Regions from separate parts of the Homo sapiens genome. Here region 1 is linked to region 2. Evidence: fine-mapped expression QTL. A gene starts in region 2. The other region holds a variant in brackets. All regions are shown on one strand. Distances are between the middles of the regions.

Region 1 (5,517 bases), 43 kb after region 2:
TTCGCCTATTTCAGGGGTCTGGGTCCAGAAGAGCTTGTTAGTTCAGTCTCAGCTCCCTACTTTTCTTACTCCCCCTTCCTTTCCCCCTCCTCCTATTAACGACTGAAGGTCTGTTTCCTCTTTAGGGCTGCAATTTTGCATTTGCAGCCCCCGGCAAAACTGTCATACGTGCCCACCGCAGGTGCCCACTGCAGATGCCCGAGACCCAGAGAAATGTTTGTAAACTTTCAACCCTGACTGTACTCCCCCGGACTCCTCCCTCAGTGGGGCCGGCTGTTGGGGCAAGGCAGCTGACCTTTGCTAGGGACTCAGAGCTGCGGGGGTTCTGGAATTGAACTGGAAATTGAGTGGCAAAAGCCCCGCTGTCGTTTCTCCTGCCCCTGCTCCCACCCCGATCTTGTGGACGAGAAAAAGCTCAAAGAACAGTGAGGGGTTAAGCTCCTTATAAGGAAATGAACCTCCTCTTTCCTGTACGGAAATTGTGCTTTTTGCTTCTATATGTTCAAAATACACTGTAAAAAAACGATCCTCGATAGGATTCACCAAATCCACTTCCCTAGGGCGAGGCGGCGGAGGTGGGGGGTGGGCGTCGAGTGGGAGCGAGGAGAGAGAGGACGGGAGGGGCGGGAATCAGGCGAGTGTGTGAAGAATTTGAGGGATGAGTCATCAAAAACAAACTGGGAAAGGGAGCGGAACTAGTAATCCGAGCTGGGAAGCAGACGAACATTCATTAGACGCAGATCGTGTCAATCACGTTTGCTCCGCAAATGACCTGAGAGCCTGCCGGGCCTCTCCGACCGGAAAAAGGGTTTTGGTGGGCGGTCTAAAGATTTTGAAATCGGAAAAGGCAGATTGCTAGCGAGCCGTCAGAGCAGCTTGCCGCAGCTCAGGCGGGCTCCGCAGAAAGATGGCGTTTGCTATCAAGGTCACATGGCCACTTTAGGGGACTAAAACGAAATACTAGCTGAGAACAACAGGAACTGCCAGCACAGGATCAGATTTTCAGAAGCAGTCTCAATTCTAAGTGTCTTTTTCTAATTAGAATCGTAAGCACATTTTTTTGTATTTGTCCGAACACATGTCCTAAGTCATCAAAACTATGTGAAGGGGTGGAGTTTCACTGGGGGTCTTCTCTTTCCGGGAGCCTGAAAAGGATGGGAGGAGGGTGGGGGAAACCCAAGGGCCAGGGTAACCGCAGAACCGGAAAGCAGCACGTGCCAGGACAGAAGGCACCCACTAGGGTCTCTGCACTGAGAGCAGTATGGGAAACCGATTCCACCAGGGACTGTGAAACTCACTAGATCTGTTAGGCTGGTGCAAAAGTAATGGCGGTTTTTGCCGTTAAAGGTAATTGCAAAAACCGCCATTACTTTTGCACCAACCTTCAGGTTCGGGTCTACGCAGCTTTGTCTAACCTCTGACCTCTCATGAGTTGGGAAAGGTTACCCTGGCAAAAAAGGATTTGCTTAGGTGCCCTATACATTGTACCAGATAACTTCCTCTATGATTTTTTTTTTTTTTTTTGAGATGGAGTTTTCACTCTTGTTGCCCAGGCTGGAGTGCAATGGCACGATCTCGGCTCCTTGCAACCTCCGCCTCCCGGGTTCAAGTGATTCTGCTGCCTCAGCCTTCGAAGTAGCTGGGATTACAGGTACCTGCCACCACATCTGGCTAATTTTTTGTACTTTTAGTGGAGATGGGGTTTCACCATGTTGGCCCAGCTGGTCTCGAACTCCTGACCTCAGGTGATCCACCTGCCTCAGCTTCCCAAAGTGCTTGGATTACAGGCGTGAGTCACTGCGCCTGGCCTCCTCTGTGGTTAAGCTTTATTTATTTATTTATTTATTTATTTATTTATTTATTTATTTATTTTGAGATGGAATTTCGCTCTGTCATCCAGGCTGGAGTGCAGTGGTTCAGCTCAGTGCAACTTCCACCTCCCGGGTTCAAGCTATTCTCCAGCCTCAGCCTCCCGAGTAGCTGGGGTTACAGGAGTGTGCCACCATGCCCAGCTAATTTTTGTATTTTAGTAGAGATGGGGTTTATTTTATTTTTATTTAGTAGAGGCAGGGTTTCACCATGTTGGCCAGGCTAGTCTCAAACTCCTGACCTTAGGTGATCTGCCCATCTCGGCCTCC[G/C]TAAGTCCTGGGATTACAGGTGTGAGCCATCAGGCCCGGCCAACTATGGTTAAACTTTAGTTGATACAAGATAAGAAATGTGAACACTGTAAGCCCATTTGTTTGTGTGTTCTCTTGTTACCTCTTTTGGTTACTTTCTTATTCATTAGTGTCCTAGCAAATGTTACTTTTCAAAAATTGCAGCCTTGTCTTAACTAAAAGATAAAAAGGAATTTGTTTACTTCTTAGCCGGTACAGTTAGAGGGCATGCACTCTGGCAGCCCTGTAATATAGGGACCAGGGAAGAACTGAGGCAAATAAAAGTAGTGATCCATGAATCGAAGCATTCAAATCTAGCTGATGGTTTCTTTCTTTTGCACTTCTGCCATTTTCATGCCCCTCACCTGCAATTGACAATCCAAACTGAGAGCTGGTCCAGGATTCTCCAGCACCCAGAAGAGCCTGAGTGGGCACAACAGAAACTCAGACTTTAAGGGTACCTAGGAATGGAAGTAGTAGCAGAAGGATTAACCTTTTCATTAGCTCAGTCTTGTCCTTGCTCAGCTCTGGCCATCCCAGTTCAAGCCATCCCCTCAAACTATGCTCTACTAATACTCCTTTATAAGTTATCATCAGACCACTCCAGTTTTTGTTTGTTTGTTTGTTGTTGTTGTTGTTGAGACAGAGTCTCAGGCTGTCGCCCAGGCTGGAGTGCAGTGGCGCGGTCTCGGTTCACTGCAACCTCCGCCTCCCAGGTTGAAGTGATTCTCCTGCCTTACCCTCCAGAGTAGCTGGGATTACAGGCACCCGCCACCATACCTAGCTAATTTTTGTATTTTTTGTAGAGACGGGTTTTCACCACGTTGGCCAGGCTGGTCTCAAAAATTCCTGACCTCAAGTGATCCGCCCACCTCGGCCTCCCAAAGTGCTGGGATTACAGGTGTGAGCCACCGCACCCAGCCTCAGTGTCAGTTTTATTGATCCTTTTGAATCTATTTAGGAATGGGGCTTGAGGGAAAAGGGGGCCACCATCTGTTCTGTTATCTGAGGCACCGTTTCTCCCTCCCCTAACCTTTAAGAGGGGCTGTAGGAATTCTAAGTGTAGTTTCAATAAACAGGTTTCTTATGGAGGAGCTATTCTAGCTCAGTCGTTCTAGAATAGTATAGCCCACTCAGGAAGAAACAACATTTAAACTTGAGCTCAGGGGGAACAAGACTCATTTACTGCTCCTCCCTTGGCCACCCTAGACAATCATGACAATTTCTCTTGGTCACGTCTGAGAGAGAGGTGTTGTAATAATCTTTTGTGGATACTCAAGTCATCATAAGAGAATGTGTGGGGGTAGAGAGAGAGGGACATGGCAAACCCAGTCCTGTAGTATTCTGGGGAAAGTACTCTGGGGGAAGATACTCTATTTACCCCAGGGGTACTCTAGGGAAAAATATAAACTTTGGTAACATAGGAAAGGATGGCTATGAGGCCTGGTTCAGGACTTTCCCTTTCCTCCTCTTCTTTTCCATTTACACAGACCCCAGAGTGCCTCTGAATGGCTGGTTCTATCCTACTGGAAGGAAGATAGCCCCATCCCTAGATGCTGGGAAGCAGTTCAATGCTCTTGATTTAGGAAGGAGGGGGAAGGCGGCTTCTACACAAGGGCGCTATATTCTGTCTCGGACACCAGGTGGCACCAAATCATAACCATAGGTCCGAAGAAACCATCAGGAAATGGACCTTGAGAGCCCTTGAACTATTTTCCTCTCCCTCCCCACTCCCCACATGAAATTGAAGAATATGAAGCCTTTCAGATATGGCAGATGACCCTCCTTCAATGAAAACTCTTGAATTCTTAAGCCAGAGCCACTTCCAGCTGAAGATTTTTAGGATTTATTATTATTATTTTTTGAGAAGGAGTTTCACTCTTGTGGCCCAGGCTGGAGTGCAATGGCGTGATCTTGGCTCACTGCAACCTCTGCCTCTGGGTTCAAGCGATTCTCCTGCCTCAGCCTCCTGAGTAGCTAGGATTACAGGTGCCCGCCACCACACCCAGCTAATTTTTGTATTTTTAGTAGAGACAGGGTTTCACCACGTTGGCCAGGCTGGTCTAGAACTCCTGACCTCAGGTGATCCACCCGCCTTGGCCTCCCAAAGTGCTGGGATTACAGGTGTGAGCCACCGCGCCTGGCCGATTTTTAGGATTTAAATGTGGCATTAGTCCCTGTTCTTCCCAGAGACCTATTTTTCAGCTTCAGAAAAGGAAAAAGGTGATTTTCCTAGAACCTTTCTGGATGCCACCACCCTCCAGAAGAGTTGTTTTTCTCCAAGGAGGTCAGTTGAACAACAGACATGAGACCTCAGAGGCTCTGCTTAAATTCTAGTCCTCCTTCTGAAGGACTGAATGCTCTACCCTGGGCATGCTGAAAATGACCGTGTCTAAAAAAGTTGTGATGTGGCTGACCAGCCTCATTACTTCTTACAATCAAACAGGCCTGCTTCCAGCACCGCAGACGCGTTCCATAAATACCCATCCCTAGACTCCTCCACCTGGAATGCTGTCCTCTCTCAGCCGTGTCCATCTGTCAGATCCATCCCATTTGTCAGGGTACAGATCAAACTCTTTGAAGCCTCTCTTTTGGTTCCCCCCAGTCTGAAGGGCCTGCTCCCTCTTCTGAATTACTGTAATAACTTGGGCCATTTTGCCCTGTTATACTTTATACCACGGCTATTTGTGAACATATCTCTGCTACAGAACTGTGAGCTCCCTGAAGGCAAAGACTATGTCGTATTTATCTTTTTATAGCCTATACTGAGGAACACAGTAGGCACTCAGTCATAATAATAATATCTGACATTTGTATAATGCTTACAGTTTCCGAAGCACATTCACATACATCTTCTCATTTAATCCTTACAACAACTCTGTGAGGTAGGTGTAATCGTCCTGTCCCTATTTTACAGATGAGCAAACAGACTCGGAGATGTTAAACCCTTCAACCAAGGTCATCCAGCTAGGAAGAGGCAGAGATGGATCTGAATGCAGGTTTTCTGACCCTATAGTCCAGTTATTTCAACTTTCTACATCTGAGCTGTTGGTTGGAAAATTCCTTCTTGGAGACTGAAGCCACAGGGCTCATCCTGGGGGCTGGGGAGAAGGGAGGAGAAGATCTAAAGGTCAAACTCCTCTCCTTTCGTTCCCACTCCCTTCTCCTCCCCACTCCCTGTTTCCAAAAAGAATTTCAGAATGCAGTCTTGTTTTGTTGAAGAATGCCCTGGCGTGAGATGTCCTTGTAGATAAGAAGGAAAAATGTGGGGTGAAGACAGGACAGTTGGGTGTATTCACAGCTGGTGACTAATGGATCTTTGTCAGCCTGGAGGGAGGTCCTTTGCCTAGCCAATAATTTA
Region 2 (5,000 bases):
CCAGCTCATCCTGGGGGAGGTCAGAGGTTGCAGGAGAAAGAACTTGACAAACACACAAGCCACCTCTTCATTTACTGTAAAATCCTGTTTAATGTGTAACATTTCAGGCAGAGAGAGGCCTTGGGGACTAGAGGCAGAGGTGGCCTTGACCAACCCCTGCTCCAACTTATCTGCCTGCTTCTCTCTCCCTAACTCCCTCACCCCAGACACCTCCTCCTTTTCCTTGTGGCCAGCAAGCACTATTCCTCCTTTACTAGTGCTGGCCACCCTCCCTTCTCCACCCACATGTCCACAGCACCCCTGCCCTCTGCTCCTCTTACCCACATCCCTCCTCACTGATGTGACTCCAGAAACAGGGTATCTGACAGCACAGGGTTAAGATTAGTTTCATAATTGGAGACGCTGTCGGAGCATCCCATCTCTTGTACCCAGTGGTCCCAGAGAGAGGGAGAGGGAAGAGGGAAGGGTGCAGGCAACAAGGGCAGCCCACACTCCCAGTAACCTTGAGCACTGGCATAGGTGGCCTCTAGCTCCCCACCCCTCCAGCTCCTCAAAAGGAAGGCCCCGGGAGGAAGGGAAGTAGCCAGGGAAGGAAGGTTTTGATCGAGTAATCCCCAGCAGGCAGAGGCCTGTGCACCGGCAGGGGAGAAGGAGGGGCTCGCCCAGGGCAGGGTCGGGGGTGGGATGGGAGGTTGCCTGGTATGTGGCATCAGCAGGCCGAGCAGCGGTCGCTCTTTTCAGCCAGCCCAGCCCCGGTGCCAGGGCTGCGGCGCAGTATGTCTTTCAGGGAGCCATCCTGCTCACTCAGCAGCTTGTTGATCTCATTCTGCTTGTATTCAGGTGAGAGGCGGTGGCCGAAGCCCGAGCCCTTGCGGGAAGGTGGATTGGAGCGGCGCTGGGCTCGGCGGGCACAGGCCCGGATGATGAGGTACACCACCTCGGCCACATTGAGGATGATGCAGATGCCAGAGGCAGCTAGCATGAAGACGGTGAAGACGGTTTTCTCGGTGGGGCGGGACACGAAGCAGTCCACTGTGTTGGGGCAGGGGTAGACGTCGCACTTGACCAGCCGCACCATGGCATAGCCAGGGTAGAGCAGATAAAAGACATACATGAAGACGGCCTCAAACAACAGCCGGAACACCACGCTGATGACATAGGTCCACCACAGTGTCCCTGAGATGTGGACCTTGTGCCTCTTCACCTCCTCCAGGTGTAGGGGGTCCCCATGGCCCTCAAGCCGTAGCATTTTCTTCTCTATGTGTTGCTGGTGAGCCACGTGCATGGCCACGAGGAGAGCTGGGGTGGAAACTAGGATGAGCTGCAGGGACCACAGCCGCACATGGGAGATGGGGAAGAATTGGTCATAGCAAACGCTGTTGCAGCCAGGCTGGAGTGTGTTGCAGATGAAGGAAGATTTCTCATCACCCCACACACTCTCTGCAGCCACCACCAGCACCATGATTCTGAAGATGAAGATGACCGAGAGCCATACTCGGCCAATGGCAGTAGAATGCCGGTTCACGCCACTGAGCAAGGTGTACAAACCTGTCCAGTTCATCCTGCCTCATTCACACCTGCAAAACACCAGCCATGAAGCAAGCTGTCAGAAAGCTGGGGTGGAAAGTCGGGCGCCATAGCACTGCCTGCGCACCCCCCCTCAACTCTTCCAAGAGCCAGTAGCAGGAAAGGAAGGATGGTCATGTCTTTCCTCGTCACCCCATCTCCCTTGCCAGCTTCTCCTCCTCCTCACTCACTTGACTTGACCTCCCTGAGCCCCATCCCCCTTCTTCGCTTTCATCCAACATTCTTTTCCCGCCAGCCCCTTTCTTTGCCAAGCCCATCTTGTTCCGATATCAGCCATCCCCTATGGCTCCCTGTCCCCTAGCTCCTTAACTCCAGACCTGGGGCAAACTCAACAAAGCCCTCTTACCTTGGGGAGCGCCTATCCCTGAGGCCACCCAGACAGGTCCCCTATGGTCTCATGTCTGTGCAGGGGGAGTGGTCCCTGGGCTCCGCGCCTGCGTCCCAATTCATCACCGCCCGGTGCTGGGGAGTCATATGCTGCTTTATACCCAGTGTCTGCACAATGAGACCTTTGTGGGGCTCTGAACAACGCCCTTTAGAATTCAGATCAAACGCCCTGACTTCCGCCCACCCTACACACAGAGCACTTGTGTCCCAGCGCCGGACACCCAGCCTGCACCCACCTGTTCTGTGCCCGCCCGGTCCATCGCCGCACCCGCCCCATAGCCCCACCAGAAGAATGGCCACGGGGGGGCGGGGGGAGGGAGATAAAACACAGGCAGGTGGATGTGAAGAGGGGACCCCAGGGGACCCAGAGGCTCTGGGCTGAGGCCCTCCCCCATGGCCCCGTCAGAAGCTTAAGGTCACCAGGATTTTCCCTGAGGCTTAGATCCTCTCCGGAATATGGAGAGGAAAGAGGACAGGAAAGAGAGCTCATTTATGAAGCCACAAACTGTGCTGAGCGTTGTTCCATACATTTTTTCTTTCGACCCATTTAGGAAGCCTGTTATCCCATTTTCCAGATGAAGAAGCTGAAGCTCAGATAAGTAACTCCTCAAGGTCACACCGTTCCAAAGCGGTAGGATAGGTAGGATGAAACAATGTATCTGAGACAGAAGTCTTTCTACAGCAGGCTCCCTGTGCTTCTGCAGATAGTGTCTGTAGAAAGCAAAGGCTAACCATTAAAAAAAAAAAAAAAAAAAGGCTGGGCGCCGTTGCTCACGCCTGTAATCCCAGCACTTTAGGAGGCTGAAGTGGGCAGATCACTTGAGGTCAGGAGATCAAGACCATCCTGGCTAACAATGTGAAACCCCATCTCTACTAAAAATACAAAAAATTAGCCGTGTGTGGTGGCGCATGCCTGTAATCCCAGCTGCTGGGTGGGAGAATCACTGGAACCCAGGAGGCAGAGGTTGCAGTGGGCCAAGATTGCACCACTGCACTCCAGTCCGGGCGACAGAGCAAGACTCCGTCTCAAAAAAAAAAAAAAATCTTCTCAGGAAAAGATAACAAAGTTGCTTTGGGGGAATAAATGGTCTGTCAAACCCAAGATCTCTCCTTTTTCTCCCTAATGCTGTGGGTTGTTTTTTATTAGAGGGTGGGGACAAGGTCTGGCTATATCACTAAGGCTAGAGTGCAGTGGCACAATCACTGCTCACTGCAGCCTTGACCTCCTGGGCTCCAGCGATCCTCCCACCTCAGCCTCTCAATTAGCTGGGACCACAGGTATGTGTCACCATGCCCAGCTAATTTTTCAATTTTTTTTTTTTGTAGAGATGGGGGGCTTGCTATGTTGCCCAGGCTGGTCTTGAACTCCTGGGCTCAAGCGATCTTCCCACTTTTGCCTCCCAAAGTGTTGGGTTTACAGGTGTGAGCCACCTTGAGCAGTCCCCAATGCTGTTGTTGACCTATAGGGTCTGTCTGAGACCCCATTGCTGCCCAGCCCCCAACCCCAAGTGCATATTGCAACCTCGTGGTTTCAGGAGCTTGCCAGTTGCTCTAGGGAGGAAATTCTCCTCTATCCCTTAGGCAGGCTAAGAAGGCTTCTCCCACCTCTTGCCACTTCTGCCATTAAGTTGCAAGGAGATCATACTAGCAGCAGGAAACTGAATGTGAGGAGGACATGCAGCCCTGGACCATAGGAGGTGCAGTGATCCCTGGAGTCATTTCCTGACCCCAGTGCATGCTCCACAGCAGAGCAACTGGTTGTGGAAGAAGCCTCATATTCAGCCCTGGGTGGTCCTCTATGCTGTAGAGGAAAGGGGTGGGGTAACAGCAACTGCAAAAGTTGGGAAATGGGATGAAAGAATCTGGGGAAAGAAGGACAGTCCACAGGACATAGGTTACTTCTCAGAACAAGGTTTCTTCATTTAGCTAAATAAATAAATAAATAAATAAATAAATAAATAAATAAATAAAAAGCCTTAGTGAGTTCATGTCATGTGCCAACCAGCATGGGGAAGCAGGGCTATGGGTGCCCTTTCTCCCAAGCCTGGGATTCTATATGCAAAGCTGCTGCACTAGGCACCACAGTTAGCCATAAAGAAATGCTTCAGGGGCTGGGCAAGGTGGCTCACGCCTGTAATCCCAACACTTTGGGAGGCCAAGGCGGGCGGATCACGAGGTCAGCAGATCGAGGCCAACATGGTGAAACCTCGTCTCTACTAAAATTACAAAAATTAGCTGGGTGTAGTGGCATGCACCTGTAATCCCAGCTACTTGGGAGGCTGAGGCAGGAGAATTGCTTGAACCCAGGAGGCGGAGATTGCAGTGAGCCGAGATTGCGCCACTGCACTCCAGCCTGGTGACAGAGCGAGACTCTGTCTCAAAAAAAAAAAAAAAAAAAAAAAAAGGAAAGAAACAAAGAAAGAAAAGAAATGCTTCAGGTGGTGAGATGTGTTACACTCTAGAACAGGTGGCCAGAGAATTATTAAGAATAACCGGCTGGGTGCAGGGGCTCACGCCTGCAATCCCAGCACTTTGGGAGGCTTAGGCGGGCAGATCACTGAGGGGTTCAAGTCCAGCCTGACCAACATGGTGAAACCCCGTCTGTACTAAAAATACAAAAATTAGCTGGGTGTGGTGGCGGGCACCCGTAATCCCAGCTACTCAGGAGGCTGAGGCAGGAGAATTGTTAGAACCCAGGAGGCAGAGGTTGCAGTGAGTGGAGATCCCGTCACTGCACTCCAGCCTGGGGGAAAGAGTGAGACTCCGTCTCGGAAAAGACGAACAAACAAACAAACAAACAAACAAACAAACAAACAAAACCTAGGCCAGGCGCAGTGGCTCACGCCTCGAATCCCAGCACTTTGGGAGGCTGAGGTGGGTGGATTGCTTGAGCCCAGGAGTTTGAGACCATCATGGGCAACATAGCATGACCCTCGTCTCTATTATATTTAAAAAAAAAAAAAAAGGCCGGGCACAGTGGCTCACGCCTGTAATCCCAGCACTTTGGGAGGCAGAGGCAGGTGGAT

Alleles and levels. Alleles are on the strand shown, and positions count from the first base shown. SD is a standard deviation of normalised expression in the study named.
For the expression in stomach of the gene that starts at base 2,045 in region 2, allele C in region 1 goes with a lower level than allele G (small effect, 0.15 SD a copy in GTEx).

The links.
Region 1: its variant is fine-mapped to the expression of GJB1 in stomach (GTEx, PIP 0.90).

The regions. Positions count from the first base shown.
Region 1 is chrX:71,177,409-71,182,925 of GRCh38, reverse strand. No RefSeq gene overlaps it. Among named protein-coding and RNA genes, the nearest start is that of NLGN3, 35 kb to the right of the region's middle. RefSeq lists enhancers at 454-543, 593-887, 944-993. The variant G/C (reference allele first, on the strand shown) is at 2,139.
Region 2 is chrX:71,220,269-71,225,268 of GRCh38, reverse strand. It overlaps GJB1 (gap junction protein beta 1), which reads right to left and starts at 2,045. Exons shown (of 2, transcript NM_000166.6): 1 at 1,934-2,045; 2 at 1-1,577. The coding sequence starts at 1,561. The coding sequence ends at 710.